Linked DNA regions of Homo sapiens. The protein of the gene in region 4 binds, or shares a complex with, the protein of the main gene of each other region. Each region holds a gene or a part of one and is shown on either strand. Other genes may lie near its edges.

Evidence for each region.
Region 1: STX5 (region 4) and VTI1B share a complex: the UniProt entries of both Homo sapiens proteins name them as parts of the SNARE complex.
Region 2: STX5 (region 4) and VAMP7 share a complex: the UniProt entries of both Homo sapiens proteins name them as parts of the SNARE complex.
Region 3: STX5 (region 4) and BNIP1 share a complex: the UniProt entries of both Homo sapiens proteins name them as parts of the SNARE complex.

Annotation. Positions count from the first base shown.
Region 1 is NC_000014.9:67,654,006-67,658,107, forward strand, and holds part of VTI1B (vesicle transport through interaction with t-SNAREs homolog 1B), read right to left. Parts: intron 2,585-4,102; coding exon 2,411-2,584; intron 1-2,410. UniProt on the Homo sapiens protein: V-SNARE that mediates vesicle transport pathways through interactions with t-SNAREs on the target membrane. These interactions are proposed to mediate aspects of the specificity of vesicle trafficking and to promote fusion of the lipid bilayers.
Region 2 is NC_000023.11:155,940,152-155,944,678, reverse strand, and holds the end of VAMP7 (vesicle-associated membrane protein 7), read right to left. Parts: intron 2,797-4,527; coding exon 2,728-2,796; coding exon of another isoform or gene 2,540-2,727; 3' UTR 910-2,539; downstream 1-909. UniProt on the Homo sapiens protein: Involved in the targeting and/or fusion of transport vesicles to their target membrane during transport of proteins from the early endosome to the lysosome. Required for heterotypic fusion of late endosomes with lysosomes and homotypic lysosomal fusion.
Region 3 is NC_000005.10:173,154,530-173,158,631, reverse strand, and holds part of BNIP1 (vesicle transport protein SEC20), read right to left. Parts: intron 1-4,102. UniProt on the Homo sapiens protein: As part of a SNARE complex may be involved in endoplasmic reticulum membranes fusion and be required for the maintenance of endoplasmic reticulum organization. Also plays a role in apoptosis.
Region 4 is NC_000011.10:62,811,546-62,815,647, forward strand, and holds part of STX5 (syntaxin-5), read right to left. Parts: intron 1-4,102. UniProt on the Homo sapiens protein: Mediates endoplasmic reticulum to Golgi transport.

The DNA.
Region 1 (4,102 bases), on a different chromosome or scaffold from region 4:
TAATCTGGACAGCTGGAGGATATTTCACCTCCAGCAGATGGCTACTTGCCATCTGTTCCCATTCCCCAGTGGCCTTGGTAAGCTGACCTCTCAGCTCGTTCCTTGGCTTTTATTTATTTGAAACAGGGTCTCACTCCGTCACTCAGGCTGGAGTGCAGTGCTGCAATCGCAGCTCACTGCAGCCTCGACCTCCCAGGCTCAAGCAATAACCCCACATGTCCCCAAGTAGCTGGGATCACAGGTGCACGCCACCACACCCTGCTCCTTTTTTTGATTTTTAGTAGAGATGAGGTCTCGCTATAGAGATGAGGTCTCGCTCTAGAGATGAGGTCTCGCTATGTTGCCCAGGCTGGTTTCAAACTCCTAGGCTCAAGCCATCCTCCCACCTCAGCCTCCCAAAGTGCTAAAATTACAGGTGTAAGCCCGGCCTCCTTGGCTTTTAAATTCAACCAATCTACCTGGTATGTTCAAAAACCAAAACCCACACAATCTGTAAGCAAGTTACATTCTCCATAGCTTGCCTTGAATGTAGTACTTTATTGTGAATTTTCACTGAAGAGGGCAGGGCATTACTCTGACTTAATGGAGAACTGAAGCTATTAAGAAAATCTACTCAAATCTTCACACTGAGCTAGTATTTTCCTGTCCAAATCTTGGCCACAGTATGTTTTTCAAATTGATTTGCCTTCTGCTATTAAGAATACAGCATTCCATTGGTAAATTGTACCAATTAAAAAATTTTGCCCGGGCGCAGTGGCTCACGCTTATAATTCTAGCACTTTGGGAGGCTGAGGCGGGCAGATCATGAGGTTAAGAGATCGAGACCATCCTTGCTAAAATGGTGAAACCCCGTCTCTACTAAAAATACGAAAAATTAGCCGGGTGTGGTGGCAGACGCCTGTAGTCCCAGCTACTCGGGAGGCCGAGGCAGGAGAATGGCATGAACCTGGGAGGCGGAGCTTGCAGCGAGCCGAGATTGCGCCACTGCACTCCAGCCTGGGCGACAGAGCAAGACTCCATCTCAAAAAAAAAAAAAAAAAAAAAAAAATTCCAGCTGGGCACAGTGGCTCATGCCTGTAATCCTAGCGCTTTGGGAGGCCAAGGTGGAATGATTGCTTGAGCCCAGGAGTTCGAGAGCAACTTTGGCAACATAATGAGACCCCGTTTTTACAAAAAATTAAAACAATTAGCCAGGCACAGTAGCACATGCCTGTATCGCAGCTACACATGAGGATCACTTGAGCCCAGGAGTTTGAAGCTACAGTAAGTTAAAATTGCACTGCTGCACTCCAGCCTGGGTGACAGAGCAAGACCCTGTCTCTAAAAAACTAAAAAATTCCTATGTAGGTTAACTCATTTATGGAAAGGAAAAAATAAATGAGTTATTTTTCTGAGGCTCTCAGAGTGACAGCAGACTAGAGATCCCTGATATAGTCATCATTTGATTTAAATATTTGTTTTCTTTCCACAATGATCCAGCTTACCTTACTGGATAATCCTTAGACATTTTTTTCCCTATTACTTTTTTTTTTTTACTTTTACTTACATAACAGTAAAGGGTTATAGTCCAGGATTGAAGCATAATTTATAAATCTATAAACTGTGGTACTATTTTATGAAATCTGGAAAACAGCCTTGGCTCTAAATAACAGGATATAAGCAGATGATGTTTTCGTAAGAATAGCAGAATACCCTATTAGATGTGTGAGAAATTAAAATCTCAGATTGGAAGCTTTGAATCCTTAAGTGCCTTTTGACATATTATTTCTCTTGCCAAAGAGAGAATGCAGCCACTTTATCCTTATTAATTTCTGTAATCTTGTAAGTGTAGAAATCAGGTCCTTCCATCTTTTTTTCCCCTCACTGAAGCAAAAATTTCCAGTGATGTCTAAATCTTAGGGGTAAAATTGCTTCTAAGGGACATCTCTCAGCCAAGCAAACTAAAAATTGAGCAAAGCGGCCGGGCACAGTGGCTCACGCCTATAATCCTAGCACTTTGGGAGGCCGGAGCAGGTGGATCACCTGAAGTTAGGAGTTCGAGACCAGCCTGGCCAACATGGCGAAACCCCATCTCTACTAAAAATACAAACATTAGCTAGGCATGGTGGCGCATGCCTGTAATCCCAGCTACTCAGGAGGCTGAGGCAAGAGAATCGCTTGAACCCAGGATGCGGAGGTTGCAGCAAGTGGAGATCACGCCACTGCACTCCAGCCTGGGTGACACAGTGAGACTCTATCTCAAAAAAAAAAAAAAAATTAATAAATAAAAATTGAGAAAAGCATAAGAACTTAAAAAAGACTATTCCCTGAATACAGAACTGCTGTAGCTTTTGGCCTTAGTACGGTTTCCAGGTGCAGTGGCCCCCTAATTACCCCATACTTGCCCCTTTCCCTGTCTGCCCAGACTTACTCTACTCTTGGTACGTTCTAACTGGTCTCGTTGTTCCCCCAGCTCTTCTATGATTTCTGAGCCAATCTGGTCAGTCTCTGTGGCAATCCGATGAGAACGTTCAATACTTTGGGTGGCCCGGTTCAGGCTTTCAGTGCCCTGCAGAAGCATTGCCCTTTGAGACTGTAGCCGATTCTGAAAGAAGTATGGAAGAGAAATGTTAGACTTTTTCCATTATAAATTCATTGCCAGCATATTCCTCATCACCTTCCCCATGTTAGAAGGGATATAGTGAGCAATAATTTTCATTCCTTTTAAGACAGAACCAAAGAAGCTAATGATTCTTTTCAAGGTCACAGACTAAAGCAGGACCTGAAATCCAATCAATAGGATCACAATACCCCCACTCCACTGCCTTTTACACTTACGCGAGGCAAGGAAAGATGGATTAAAAATACTGGAGCACTTTCCCTGTGTTTGTAATGAATCTGAACTGGTCCATGTGCCTCCTGGACTATCAACTTCTGAAAGGTGGCAGCCCAGATGTGGGAGCTACCTGATAATGCATATAGCCTGTAACTTCGATAGTGCTATGGGCAAACCAACTAAACTCTGCAGCCCTAGAAAAAGGTTAATTCACTGAAGATTCCCACTAGACTGGTACTGAGGATTGACGGACCATGAATAAGCTATTCTGTTCTTCGTTTTAAGCCTCCAGCACCTGGTATTTCCAGGTGGTCTCCCATCCAAGTACTAACCTGGCCTGACTCACTTGGCTTCTGAGATCAGGCAGGTTCAGAGTGGTATTGCCTAGATGACTACATTCTTCTTTTTCAGCTTCTAAAGAAAGCATGTAGAAGTCTGAGACACTACCACATTCTGGAAAAAACGTATGTGGTTACCCTCTTGGTGAGCCCCAGAAAGAACTTCACCTAAGGTCAAACAAAAAACCTTGAGCCTGCCACACTGGGGGTGATTTGGTCTCAGGGAAATTAGTATCTGGGGCTTGAGCAAGCTTCCCCACCTGCCCTAATTTCTCAACTGCCCTAATTTTCTAAATCCCCACCGAAGTTTTACTCCACCTGTAATCCTAAATACAGACAGCAGGAAGAAAAAAGTAGCCTTGTCAGGCCAGAATTAACAACCACTGACAGAAACGGAGGCAGCTCCAAGTTCTTAGCTGTTCAAAGCACGCGCGCGCGTGCACACACACACACACACACACACACCCAAAATCAAAAGGGACCCAGCTCACAGAGGCCTAGTACAGAGCAAGTGACCACTGGCAGTAGGACCATCAAGGAGCCAAAAGATTGGCTCCCAGAACAGAAGTAGCAAGGAGCATTTTCTTTCTTTCTTTTTTTTTTTTTTTTTGAGACAGTCTCGCTCTGTCGCCCGGGCTGGAGTGGAGTGGCAAGATCTCAGCTCACTGCAGCCTCTGCCTCCCGGGCACAAGCAATTCTGCTGCCTCAGCCTCCCAAGTAACTGGGATTACAGGCACCCGCCACCACGCCCAGCTAATTTTTGTATTTTTAGTAGAGACAGGGTTTCACCATGTTGGCCAGGCTGGTCTCGAACTCCTGACCTCAGGTGATCCACCAGCCTCAGCCTCCCAAGGTGCTGGGATTACAGGCGTAAGCCACTGTGCCCGGCGCTCTGTAGCATTTTCACTTAATAAATGGCATACAGACCAGTAGACGAGGAAACCACTGA
Region 2 (4,527 bases), on a different chromosome or scaffold from region 4:
TGTTGTTGTTACATTCATTTCCATCAAGATACCCTGGGAAGCAACCCAGTATCTTTGTCTATCTTGAGGCCAGAAAAGATAGATACCAAGAGTCAAGCAAGAAGAAACCATTATCTAAAGGCACCTACATTCACTATTAAGGAAACTTTTGGATTGTAACACTGTTTTTTTTTTTGCCAAGGGTTTGAAGTAAAGAGAAATAGCTGGTGTCACTTCTTTCTTTATTCATAACCAAATAAATAACCATCTTTTATTTTTCTCTAAGTGTCTGTTAGAGAATGCACATTTCAGTTGAAATCTGGATAAAACCTAGGGAGAACTTAAATAGGCTGTTTTTAAGTTATTGCAGCCTGTACAAAAATATATTCTATACCTGACTTTAGCCACCTTACGTTCAGAGGTCCCAAGTGACTGATTATTTTGTTGTGACCTATCTATTTGTATATTTGATTTGTGCCTGTTTTTCTTTTATTTCTGTTTAGGTACCCTGTTTGCTATAATGAATTATTCCCTCCCACCATTATGCCTTCCGCTTGAGTCTCTTTCAGAACCAGTCATTTAACTTTAGATAGAAAGATTTTTCAGAATTGTGCTAAACTGGATGAAAATCCCTGGGGTTCTTTTTCAGTTCTGTCTAAATCATGCACTCAGGACGATAGTTGTGAAGGCTGTGTGATCATCTCAGAATCTTTCATTGGTTTCAGCATGGGCTATATATTTTTTAAGTTCATTTGTGTCTTTTGAAGAAATTCTACACACCTGAGACTATGCTACAGATCTTTACTGGAAGTCTCCAGGTAACACTTCTTAATATATTTTCCGCATAAGTAAAATACTTTTGTTCTGTAAACAATGGCAAATGTCATCAGAAGAAATTAGGTTCCAGAAAGAACTTCTAAAACAAGCAAATCATTGTATTACTCTTAAATTTTATTAACATCTTCAGTTTGTGCGTCATTTAAAATGAGACATGTGCTTTAAAAAGCATTCTTATACATAAATAGACCAAGGAACAGTTAGGTAATTGATCCCTAAAACATGCACATCAATTTTATTCAGGTGTGTATAAGAAAGGGAAATAAGCTTTAAACCTTTTTCTTTGGATTAAAAACATTTGGAAATTATTCAGGAATGCCAAATGTTTTTCTGGAACAGATGTATTTTCCAATAGGAAATACTGATGCAATTAAGAGGCATTAGTGTTGATAAAGAAGACTGGAAAAACGTTTGTGCTATGCTAGATAAACAAGAAAAGAGTTCAAGTGGGCCTAAGATCTATGTCAAATAAATGAATCAGGTAGCATGAATTGAAAGGTTTGGATAGAAGAACAGGTACCATGAGCCAGATTATGGGACACATATATGTTCAAGGCACATGACTAGGCTAAACAGGTGGCTAGATTCTACAGACTAATTTGTTCATTCATTGAGAAAGTGTAAAATGTAATATAATTTCAATTTAATGGCACTTATTGATAAATAAATGCAATTGGATCTAGGGTAGAAAATGTCTTCCTTTCAGATACACACCAGAAATGCATACTAGATAACAGATGCCAGTAGCGATATGATTACAGTCCAATTTTCTTACACTGCAGTTAAATGGTTGTTAAACTGTTTTGTATTAATTCTATATGTCATACTGTCTATTCTCTTTCAAGTTTCACAAAAGAATTCATCAAAACTAGGCAGATTTAAGAATTTATTTAACCACAAAGAATGCTCAAAACTATTATTCAACAGGAATCAAGCCCAAACCCTGGAGTTGACTGCTGACCGTATTCGGTTTGGGCTTTTCCCAGAATGGAAACACTTTTCCCACACTACCTCCCTTTGCACAGCTAAAATGCTAGCATATCCACTGTGGTTCCCTTCTTTTTCTTTGGCAAGTCAGAGGAATTTACCTCCCCACCCCCTCTACTACATATTCTATTAGCGACACGATTGCCCTAAATATTCACAGAAGAAAAAGGAACACATTTAAAAAACTGCAACTTTCAACAATATTTAAACCTTCATCTTCTCAAATCAACTGCAATGGGAAAACAGAAGATATCAAGCTATCCACTGTATTGTGAATGATCAGCACACTGAACTTTATTCCTGAAAGTCAATATTAGGAGGACAAGGATAATTCTGTGTGCTTCTAATGGGCTAGCAAAATGTTCCCCATCTAACTGAAATAAGAATGTTTCATACTTTACTTGTCTGAGCTCTTAGAAGGAAGCAGCACCAACATCATTACAATTCCCCAAATAACAACTATTATCCATTTATATTGTTTTGAAGCACCTAAAACTTCTCAATAACAAAAGACATTAAGATGAGATGTTAGCAATACTGTCTCTTGAATACTTTTGTGTGCACATACAAAGTTTCTCCATAGTTTTAGTAGATAGCTCATAAGACTAGCGGCGACAGCTTTGAGCAATTAAAAACAAAAATGTTTCTCTAAATAGATGACACTAGTTAACAAACCAAAGAAATAAACAAAAGCCTTTTTAAGGCTACTGCTGCAATGAATGGTTCAATCTGAAGTTCACAGGAATAAACTGGTAGATAAGACAAAGATAAACCTGGAGGCATGGAACAAGATTTTAAAAAGTGAGAAGAGGGTTGAAGAGACTGGCAGATACCATCTGTCAGTATGTGAAAGGCTTGAGTCACATGGATTGCTTTTAACTCCTTGTTCTCTCATATCCTTGGTTAATGGTAACTTCTTCTTTCCTATTTCTTCACACAGCTTGGCCATGTAAATCCACCACAGAGAGGTGAAACAATGATATAGATGAACACCTGGAGGGACGAGGAGAGCAATTTTATTTTCTTGAATCAATCATATTATTCTAAATAATATATATAGGAAAGTAGAGCCTTATTAAGAAATACTTCTGATTCCATTAGAGTAGCAGTTATGTAGTAATGGAACACACTAAACAAGTATTTTCCAAGACAGAAGTGTAGTTAACATTGTCGTTTTTGGTATAACTCACACCCACTTGAACTCTAGCGTTTCCTTCAGTGGGAGAGAAAGCAGTGGGGTTGTTGCTCTTCACTGGTAACTCGGCAGAATCAAGGCTAAATGAGCAACTCATACTGATGTGTCATTAACAAGTCATAAAAAAATCACAAATAACCATAATTCTCCTGAAGTATGGTTTCATTAATTATATTTTTAGGTTTTGCACATGAATTTTATTTTTGATTAATATAAGAATATATTTTAAAAGCCTGAGTAGAAGGCTTTCATCTATATCACTTATGAGCAAGAACACTGCTACGAACTGTTCAGTGGATAATGACACAATAATTACGATGACCAAAACAATGAAAAGCAGATGATGTAAGTAACACTGCAAAAATACTGGTGCTATTACAGATGTGTTTGCTTTTTAATTCTAGATTATAATTTTAAATTATATTATAAAAGTCACTACTTGTTCACATTATTATATCACAAAAAATAGATTTTAAACATTAGGTTCACTGCATTAGTCACTTTATTTTATTTATTTTTTATTTTTTATTTTTGTAGAGATAGGGTGTCACTATGTTGACCAGGCTGGCTTCAAACTCTTGGCCTCAAGCAATCCTCCTGCCTCAGCTTCCCAAAGTGCTGGGATTACAGGCATAAGCCCCTATGCCTGGCTTTATTTTGCTTTAAATTACAACTTTTTGAGATCTTTAAGTGACTGATTTCATTATTTGCAAGCTTGGAAAAGGATGCATTGATGAATTGCATGCCCTTTGCTCCAAAAGTGAGCAAAGCATTTTGCCTTGTAGGGAACTATAAATATTGCCAGGGTTGGGGGGCAGATTACAGCAAATTCTGTTTATTAATGAATAGGTTGAACTTCTGACATCATATTCACACATACACACACATACTCACACATACACATGCCACAAATGTAAAGTTTACCAACTTGATGTAAAGTTGACTATTTGTCACAGCTGTAATATAAGGATTTTTCAAGCTGAAGTACATCTCGTTAGGTGACAACACCTTTTCGCAAAGATTGATATTGCATTTAGAGCTGTGCTCTGCATGTAATAAGTAATCAGTAAATATATTCTGAATTTAACAATTCAGCTGCACAAATCAACCTAAACTCCCAGACCAAATAATAAGTAAGAAGCTAAGCTCAGGAGCCTAAAATGTGATATTAGAAAGAGAAACCTGAGCAAGGAACCATTCAAGGCCATGACAATTACTTCCAGTATAAAATCTACAGATCTATGACTGCTCTTCTCTTTTAGATAAATCCAGCTGTCTAAGGCAGAGGACCCTCAAGCTGTGGTAGAGGAGAAGCAGGGTCAGAGTTATCTGCTTGGAGGTAACTTTGGGCTTCTGGACATGACTGGAGGATGGGGAGGAAAGGCAACTTTATCTGACCATGAACAGGGTAAAGCACCCCCCACCTGTTAGCAATAGTTTTTAAAGTTGTGGTTTAGGACCTCTTTACACACTCAAAAATTACTGAGGACTCCAAAGAGTTCTTGTTTAAGGGGGATTATAATTATCAG
Region 3 (4,102 bases), on a different chromosome or scaffold from region 4:
GCCTTCAGAGCCCATCCCACCTCCTGCCACTTCCGCCTCCTGGTTCCCCAGCAACTGTTCTTGCTCAGGTCCTGATACCCCTTGACCGGACCCTGGAGGTCGCCACGGGGAGGCTCTGTTGCTGTCACTCTGCCCCCGTCAGCCCAAGGGGCTGTGAACATGGCACTCCTCTGTGCACAGCTCCACAATGGCTGGACTTCAGGGAGGCATCCAAACTTCCCAGCTGGTCACACAAGGCCCCTCTTCAGTCCAGTTGCCTCTAAGGCTGTACTGCTATGGCCTGTGTATTAATTGGTACCATCCCCGGAGAACCATGACTTACTCATCTCCAGTATCTTGAACAACCATTTCTGGCCCTTCAGCTGCTGAGTTAATATACTTTGTAGGAAATAAAAAATCGTGGCCAGGCACAGTGGTTCACACCTGTAATCATAGCACTTTAGGAGGCCGAGGTGGGGGGATCACTTGAGCCCAGGAGTTCAAGACCAGCCTGGGCAACATGGAGAAACCCCGTCTCTACTAAAAATACAAAAAATTAGCCAGGCATGGTGGTGGCGCATGCCTGTGGTTCCAGCTACCCAGGAGGCGGAGGAGCGAAGATCACCTGAGCCTGGGAAGTGGAGGTTGCAGTGAGCCGTGATAGTACCACTATACTCCAGCCTGGGTGACAGAGTAAGACCTTCTCTCAAGAAAAAAAAAAAAAAACACACACACACACACAAAAAGCCAATCTTTCAAAATATTTCTTCAAGGTTTGTTGTTCTTTCCATACTACAGACCAATCATGAATGACACAAACATGATGGATTAGCAGAGCCCTGACTGACACGGCGGATCTACAGTCTTCACCTGCGCTAACTTGTGGGTGATAACGGAAAGTTGGTGAACAGCTTCCTGGAGTTAGAAATGTGACAGTTGACCGGGCGTGGTGGCTCACATCTGTAATCCCAACACTTTGAGAGGCCGAGGCGGGTGGGTCACTTGAGGTCAGGAGTTCGAGACCAGCCTGGCCAACATGTTAAAACCCTGTCTCTACTAAAAATACAAAAATTAGCTGGACATGATGGCGAGTGCCTGTAATCCCAGCTACTCGGGAGTCTGAGGCAGGAAAATCACTTGAATCTAGGAGGCAGAGGTTGCAGTGAGCCAAGATCACGCCACTGCACTCCAGCCTGGGCAATGAGAGTAAGACTCCGTCTCAAAAAAAAAAAGAAATGTTGACAGTTGTTGATAGACTATAAAAAAGCTAACTGCGTCTCTCTAAGAATCAAACTCATACTTCAGAACTCTTATGTAGCCAGCTCAAACCAATTGTGCTAATCTCTGGAAATACTCAAAAATCAAAACACAGAGTACATGAACTGACAGGGTGGTTTTCTAATAGCACCTTTATGCTGAAGGTCTTAATGAGCACCTGCTCCGCCATTTCACACCTGCCACTTTAAAGAATCCATTACATTTTGAAACAGTTTGCAAGGGGGTTCTGCAGGACCCTGGGATCCAGAGATGAATGAGGGGCAGTACTTCTCCTCAACCACCTCACATTCATTTGGGAAAAAGACAAGCAAACAGATACTCACTGTATGGTGTGACAAGCATGATGACCCAAGCAAGCACAACTACTGCTTCAACTGCCAAAGTTGGTTTTTTTTGTTTTTTTTGTTTTTTTTTTGAGACAGGGTCGGCTGGGCACGGTGCCTCACGCCTGTAATCCCAGCACTTTGGGAGGCTGAGACCGGCGGATCATGAGGGTCAGGTGATCGAGACCGTCCTGGCTAACACGGAGAAACCCCATCTCTACTAAAAATATAAAAAATGAGCCAGGCGTGGTGGCGGGTGCCTGTAGTCCCAGCTACTCGGAGAGGCTGAGGCAGGAGAATGGCGTGAACCCGGGAGGTGGAGCTTGCAGTGAGCCGAGATTGCGCCACTGCACTCCAGCCTGGGTGACAGAGTGAGACTCTGTCTCAAAAAAAAAAAAAAACAAAAGAAAAGAGGCAGGGTCTCGTTCTGTCTCCTAGGCCAGGTGCAGTCACATGATCACGGCTCACTGCAGCCTTGACCTCCCGAGCCCACTGCCCTCCTGCCTTGGCCTCCCAAGTAGTTGAGACTACAGGCACACATCAGCATGCCCCCAGCTAATTTTTTTTTTTTTTAATAGATGAGGTTTTGCTTTGTTGCCCAGGATGGTCTTAAACTCCTGGGCTCAAGCAGTCCTCCTGCCTCGGCCCCCGAAGTGCTGGGATTATAGGTGTGAGCTACTGCACATAGCCCCAAAGTATAAATTGACAGCTTTCTCTGCTCTGGCCTGTAATGCTACATTGTGGATGGCCATTCCCAGCTTTAAACCCATGCTAAGCTGAGTGTGTCTGGCATAACTTACCATACTTTATACAAGGGCTCCTCTGTACTCAGTGTTTATAATCTGAGTAGGCTTGGTGGCTCAGGAAAGCAAAAGCCATCATAACATAAAGTATTCGTGAAATAGCCAAGCCCTGGATCACTGCCCACCACTCATACAGCCCTCCCTGCTTACACTGGCCTCCCTGTGCCTGTGTTTTTGCCAGTCGGTGTCTTCCTGACAGCTGACTGTTACATACACAGCTGCTTGCAGGGAAGATGATGCTGGCAAATTGCTCAAATCAGAAGCAAAGCCACAAATACAGATCTGGCAGAGGCAGACCAGTGAACAAGAGACAAAGAGAAAACCCATGGGAATGACAACTTAGCAGGGGTTTCAAAAGAGAATGATTTAGCCAGGCACGGTGGAGTGTGCTGTAGTCCCAACTACTTGGGAAGCTGAGGTGAGAGGATCGCTTGAGCCCAGGAGTTCCTGAGGCTGCAGTAAGCTATGACTGTACTCCAGACTGGGCAACAGAGAAGGACCTCATTTCCAAAATTTTTTAATTTTTTAAAAATAAAAATATTTTTTTTTTGTTTTTAAGGTGGAGTCTCACTCTGTCACCCAGGCTGGAGTGCAGCAATCTCGGCTCACTGCAACCTCTGCCTCCCGGGCTCAAGCGATTCTCCTGCCTCAGCCTCCCGAGTAGCTGGGATTACAGGTGTGTGCCACCACACCCGGCTAATTTTTGTATTTTTAGTAGAGAGGGGTTTCACCATGTTGGTCAAGCTGGTCTCGAACTCCTGACCTCATGATCTGCCCACCTCGGCCTCCCAAAGCGCTGGGATTCCAGGCGTGAGCCGCCGCACTGGGCCAAAAATGTATTTTTAAAAAAGAGAGAGAATGATCTGAATACCTCAAATATGTTTGGAAAAACCCTCTTTATGATTGGTACAAAAGTCAAATGTGAAGGGAAAGATACTGTTTCATGTTGTCTGACAATTTCATTGGAAAAGTTAAACCTCTCCCAATTCAATAACAAGAAATGGCATATAACTGTAACTATATAATCAAGGATTAGCACACACCTGCAATTACAACCTCGATTTTGGTTTTAATTTTTGACCTCAATTTTGTTTAATTTACGGTTTTTCTTGCATTTTATTTTATTTTATTTTTAGACAGCATCCCACTCAAAACCTTCTAAATTTTGGTCCACCTTCAGCAGGTTTTCTTTCTGTAGATTTTTTCTGGTACCAATTATCCTTAGATAAAAAATGACCCTGTATTACAAAAGCAATCATATTTTTTGATTAAAAATATACAATACAGTATAATGTTAAATATGCTTTTGTAAACTATGTTCAGCTCCACCTGCTCAGATAGGCCCTATTTATCCCTTCCCCACTCGCCCCCACTTGACTATTGCTGACTGAGAGAGAACATTCCACCAGTGTGTAACTGATGCAATTGGCTGGGCGTGGTTGCTCACACCTGTAATCCCAGCACTTTGGGAAGCCAAGGTGGGTGAATCACATGAGGCCAGTGTTAGAGACCAGCCTGGCCAACACAGCGAAACTCTGTCTCTAGTAAAAATACAAAAATTAGCCAGGCGTGATGGTGGGCGCCTGTAATCCCAGCTACTCAGGAGGCTGAGGCAGAAGAATTGCTTGAACTCGGGAGGCAGAGGTCACAGTGAGCCAAGATCAGGCCACTGCACTCCAGCCTGGGCAATAGAGCGAGACACCGTCTCTCAAAAAAAAA
Region 4 (4,102 bases):
CTCCTTTCCCCTTTTTGGGCTGGCATTCCCTCCAAGTCTTAGCTTGGTATCACTTCTGGGAAGGCCCCTTGGCCCCATCTAGGAGCAGTACCTACTCTGAGTTCTCTCATCCCTTTTTTTTTTTTTTTAATAGACACGGGGTCTCTGTGTTGCACAGGCTTTCTTGAACTGCTGGCCTCAAGTAATCTGCCTCGGCCTCCCAAAGTGCTAGGATTACAGGGATGAGCCACCACACCCAGCCTCATCCCCTTCTCTTCTTGCCCTATCATACTGAGCTGTCACTGTCAACTTATGTCTCTCCTACTAGTGAGCTCCAGGAGGACCAGAATGGTCTTTCACCCTTTTATCCTCAGACCCAGCAGGATTAGCTCACAGCAGCAACAAATGTTTGCTAAACCAATGAGCAAACACATGCTAACAGTGAAAAATACTTATGACACTGTTTCAAGGAAGACTAGAATGTAAAGTTGCCTATATGCTATAACTTTATTTTAGATGTATATGGATTGAGGAAAGAACTCAAATACCTTTTTTTTTTTTTTTTTTTTTGAGATGGAGTTTTGCTCTTGTTGCCCAGGCTGGAGTGCAATGGTGCGATCTCAGCTCACAGCAACCTCCGCCTCCCGGGTTCAAACCATTCTCCTGCCTCAGCCTCCAGAGTAGCTGGGATTACAGGCATGCGCCACCATGCCTGGCTAATTTTGTATTTTTAGTAGAGACAGGGTTTCTCCATGTTGGTCAGGCTGGTTTCAAACTCTGGACCTCAGGTGGTCCGCCCGCCTCGGCCTCCCAAAGTGCTGGGATTACAGGCATGAGCCACTGCGCCTGGCCCTCCATATCTTTTATAATTCTGTTTCACTGACTCTATAATATTCTTTTTTTTGGAAACGGTGTCTCACTCTGTTGCCCAGGTTGGAGTGCAGTGGCGTGTGGCGTGATCTGGGCTCACTGCAAGCTCCGCCTCCTGGGTTCACGCCATTCTCCTGCCTCAGCCTCCCTAGTAGCTGGGACTACAGGCGCCGGTCACCACACCCGGCTAATTTTTTTGTATTTTTTTTAGTAGAGATGGGGTTTCACCGTGTTAGCCAGGATGGTCTCGATCTCCTGACCTCGTGATTCGCCTGTCTCGCCTCCCAAAGAGCTGAGATTACAGGCGTGAGCCACCACGCCCAGACTTAATATTCTAATATTCAAAATACAACATAGCTCAGGGAGCTATGGTGTTTATGGCATAATTCTGCAAGGGGTTCCCTAGGTCTCAGCTGAAATAGATAAAAATCAATTAGGCCGGGTGCGGTGGCTCACGCCTGTAATCCCAGCACTTTGGGAGGCCGAGGTGGGCGGATCACGAGGTCTAGGAGTTCAAGACCAGCCTGGCCAATATGGTGACACCCCATCTCTACTAAAAATACAAAAATTATCCGGACATGGTGGCTCGTGCCTGTAGTCCCAGCTACTTGGGAGGCTGAGGCAGAAGAATCATTTGAACCCAGGAGGCGGAGGTTGCCACTGCACTCCAGCCTGGGTGGCAGAGTGAGACTCCGTCTCAAAAAAAAAAAAAAAAAAAATCAGTCAATTATTAGCCAGGCATGGTGGTGCATGCCTGTAATCCCAGCTACTCGGGAGGCTGAGGCAGGAGAATCACTTGAACCTGGGAGGAAGGGGTTGCAGTGAGCCAAGATAATGCCACTGCACTGCAGCCTGGGTGACAGAGTGAGACTGTCTCAAACAAACAACAACAAAAAAAATCAGTCAATTCTCCTGACTCTAGGATCAAGACAGCTGTACTCACGGTACCTTATAAATGGCTGGTGCTCAACATATAGTAGTTGAATAAACAAACTTTCTTTTAATCAGTAGTTCCCAAACCTGGATGCTCATCAGAACCCCCTATGGAATTTGTAAAAATGAAGCTCCCTGAAAAGCCCACTCCATTCACATCTCTCGAATCAGAATCTCCAAGTGTTTTCTTTTACCTTGGCCAGTTAAATGTGTGAGGCTGCTTAGTGGATTGATGTTCAGAAACCGGCTTTATACAAATGTAGGTGTTCACTCAGTTTCACATGATCAACAACGTAGAGTAAAAGCACTCTGCTAGATACCGTGGGGAATAAAGATCAATCAGGGTTGGACCCTGCTAAAGGGATAAGATCAAGTGGGCAGGAGTGGATTCCTAAAACCTCCTACACCTCCTCTCCTCTACTGGCTTTTCTTCTTAATGAGCTGAGAAGACTGAAGTGGTCTGAAGATAAATGCCGCTCCACCCCGAGCATTGCTACAATAGCCTCTGTCTTCCCACCTATCGCCAGCTCCTCTTAGAGCCAAGCCTTGATTTATGCCCCGGAGCCCACTTCCTTTCACCTTCTCAAGGACATCATTTCAAGAATTCTCCCATCTTTCTCCTATATTATCATTTTTAAATTTATCCGTTGCATCATTTCCATTGGCATGCTAACATACCTTTATTTTCTCTCAGCCTTTTAAACCCTCTAGGCTCCCACCAGACATATTTGGAACAACTTGAGCACTCACAATAATCATTGCCCTAACTAATAATAAGACAACCAATACATTAAAACCTATAATTAAAGCCTATAGCGATGCTCAGAAAAGAGGAAGAATTTAATTAATTTACTTGAGATGGAGTTTCGCTCTTGTTGCTCAGGATGAAGTGCAATGGCACAACCTTGGCTCATTGCAACCTCCACCTCCTGGGTTCAAGTGATTTTAGTGCCTCAGCCTCCCAAGTAGCTAGCATTACAGGCATGCACCACCACGCCCTAATTTTGTATTTTTGGCAGAGATGGGTTTCACCATGTTGATCAGCCTGGTCTCGAACTCCCGACCTTAGGTGATCCACCCACTTCTGCCTCCCAAAGTGCTGGGATTACAGGTGTGAGCCACCGCACCCGGGACTCTTCCTTTTTTTTTTTTTAGATAAGAGTCTCACTCTGTTGCCCAGGCTGGAGTGCAACGGCGTGATCTCGGCTCACCCAACTTCCGCCTCCCAGGTTCAAGAGATTCTCCTGCCTCAGCATGCCAAATAGTTGGGATTACAGGCAGGTGCCACCACGCTCAGCTAATTTTTTTTTTTTTTTTGAGATGGAGTTTCGCTCGTTGCCCAGGCTGGAGTGTAATGGCGCAATCTTGGCTCACCGCAACCGCTGCCTCCCGGGTTCAGGTGATTTTCCTGCATGCGCCACCACGCTCAGCAAATTTTGTGTTTTTAGTAGAAACGGGGTTGCTCCATGTTGGTCAGGCTGGTCTCCAGCTCCCGACCTCAGGTGATCCGCCTGCCTCGGCCTCCCAGAGTGCTGGGATTACAGGTGTGAGCCACTATGCCTGGCTTTCTGATTTAATATTTAAAAAGCTATTAAACAGTTTGGGGACAACTGGGAAAATGTAAACCCTCACTGGATATCACATATTAGGAAATAGTTAATTCTAACAGATAGGATAACTGGGTGTCTTTTTTTTTTTTGAGATGGAGTCTTGCTCTCTTGCCAGGCTGCAGTGCAGTGGTACGATCTCGGCTCACTGAAACCTACACCTCCCAGGTTCAAGCGATTCTCCTGCCTCAGCCTCCCGAGTAGCTGGGACTACAGGCACGCAGCACCACGCCCAGTTAATTTTTCTGTTTTCAGTAGAGATGGGGTTTCACCATGTTGGCCAAGATGGTCTTGATCTCTTGAGCTTGTGATCCGCCCGCCTTGGCCTCCCAAAGTACTGGGATTACAGGCATGAGCCACCATGCCCAGCCAACCGGGTGTGGTTTTTATTTTATTTATTTTTTATTTTTTAGGACAGAGTATCGCTCTGTCGTAACACTCACTGGATAATACATAATATTAGGAAATCATTAATTTTCACAGACATAACTGGGTGTGGTTTTTATTTTTTGAGACAGAGTATCACTCTGTTGTGACACTCACTGAATAATACATAATATTAGGAAATCGCTAATTTTCATAGATAGGATAACGGCGTGGTTTTTTTTTTTTTATTTTTTGAGACAGAGTCTCGCTCTGTCGCCCAGGCTGGAGTGCAGTGGCACAATCTCGGCTCACTGCAACCTCTGCCTCCCAGGTTCAAGCACTGCTCC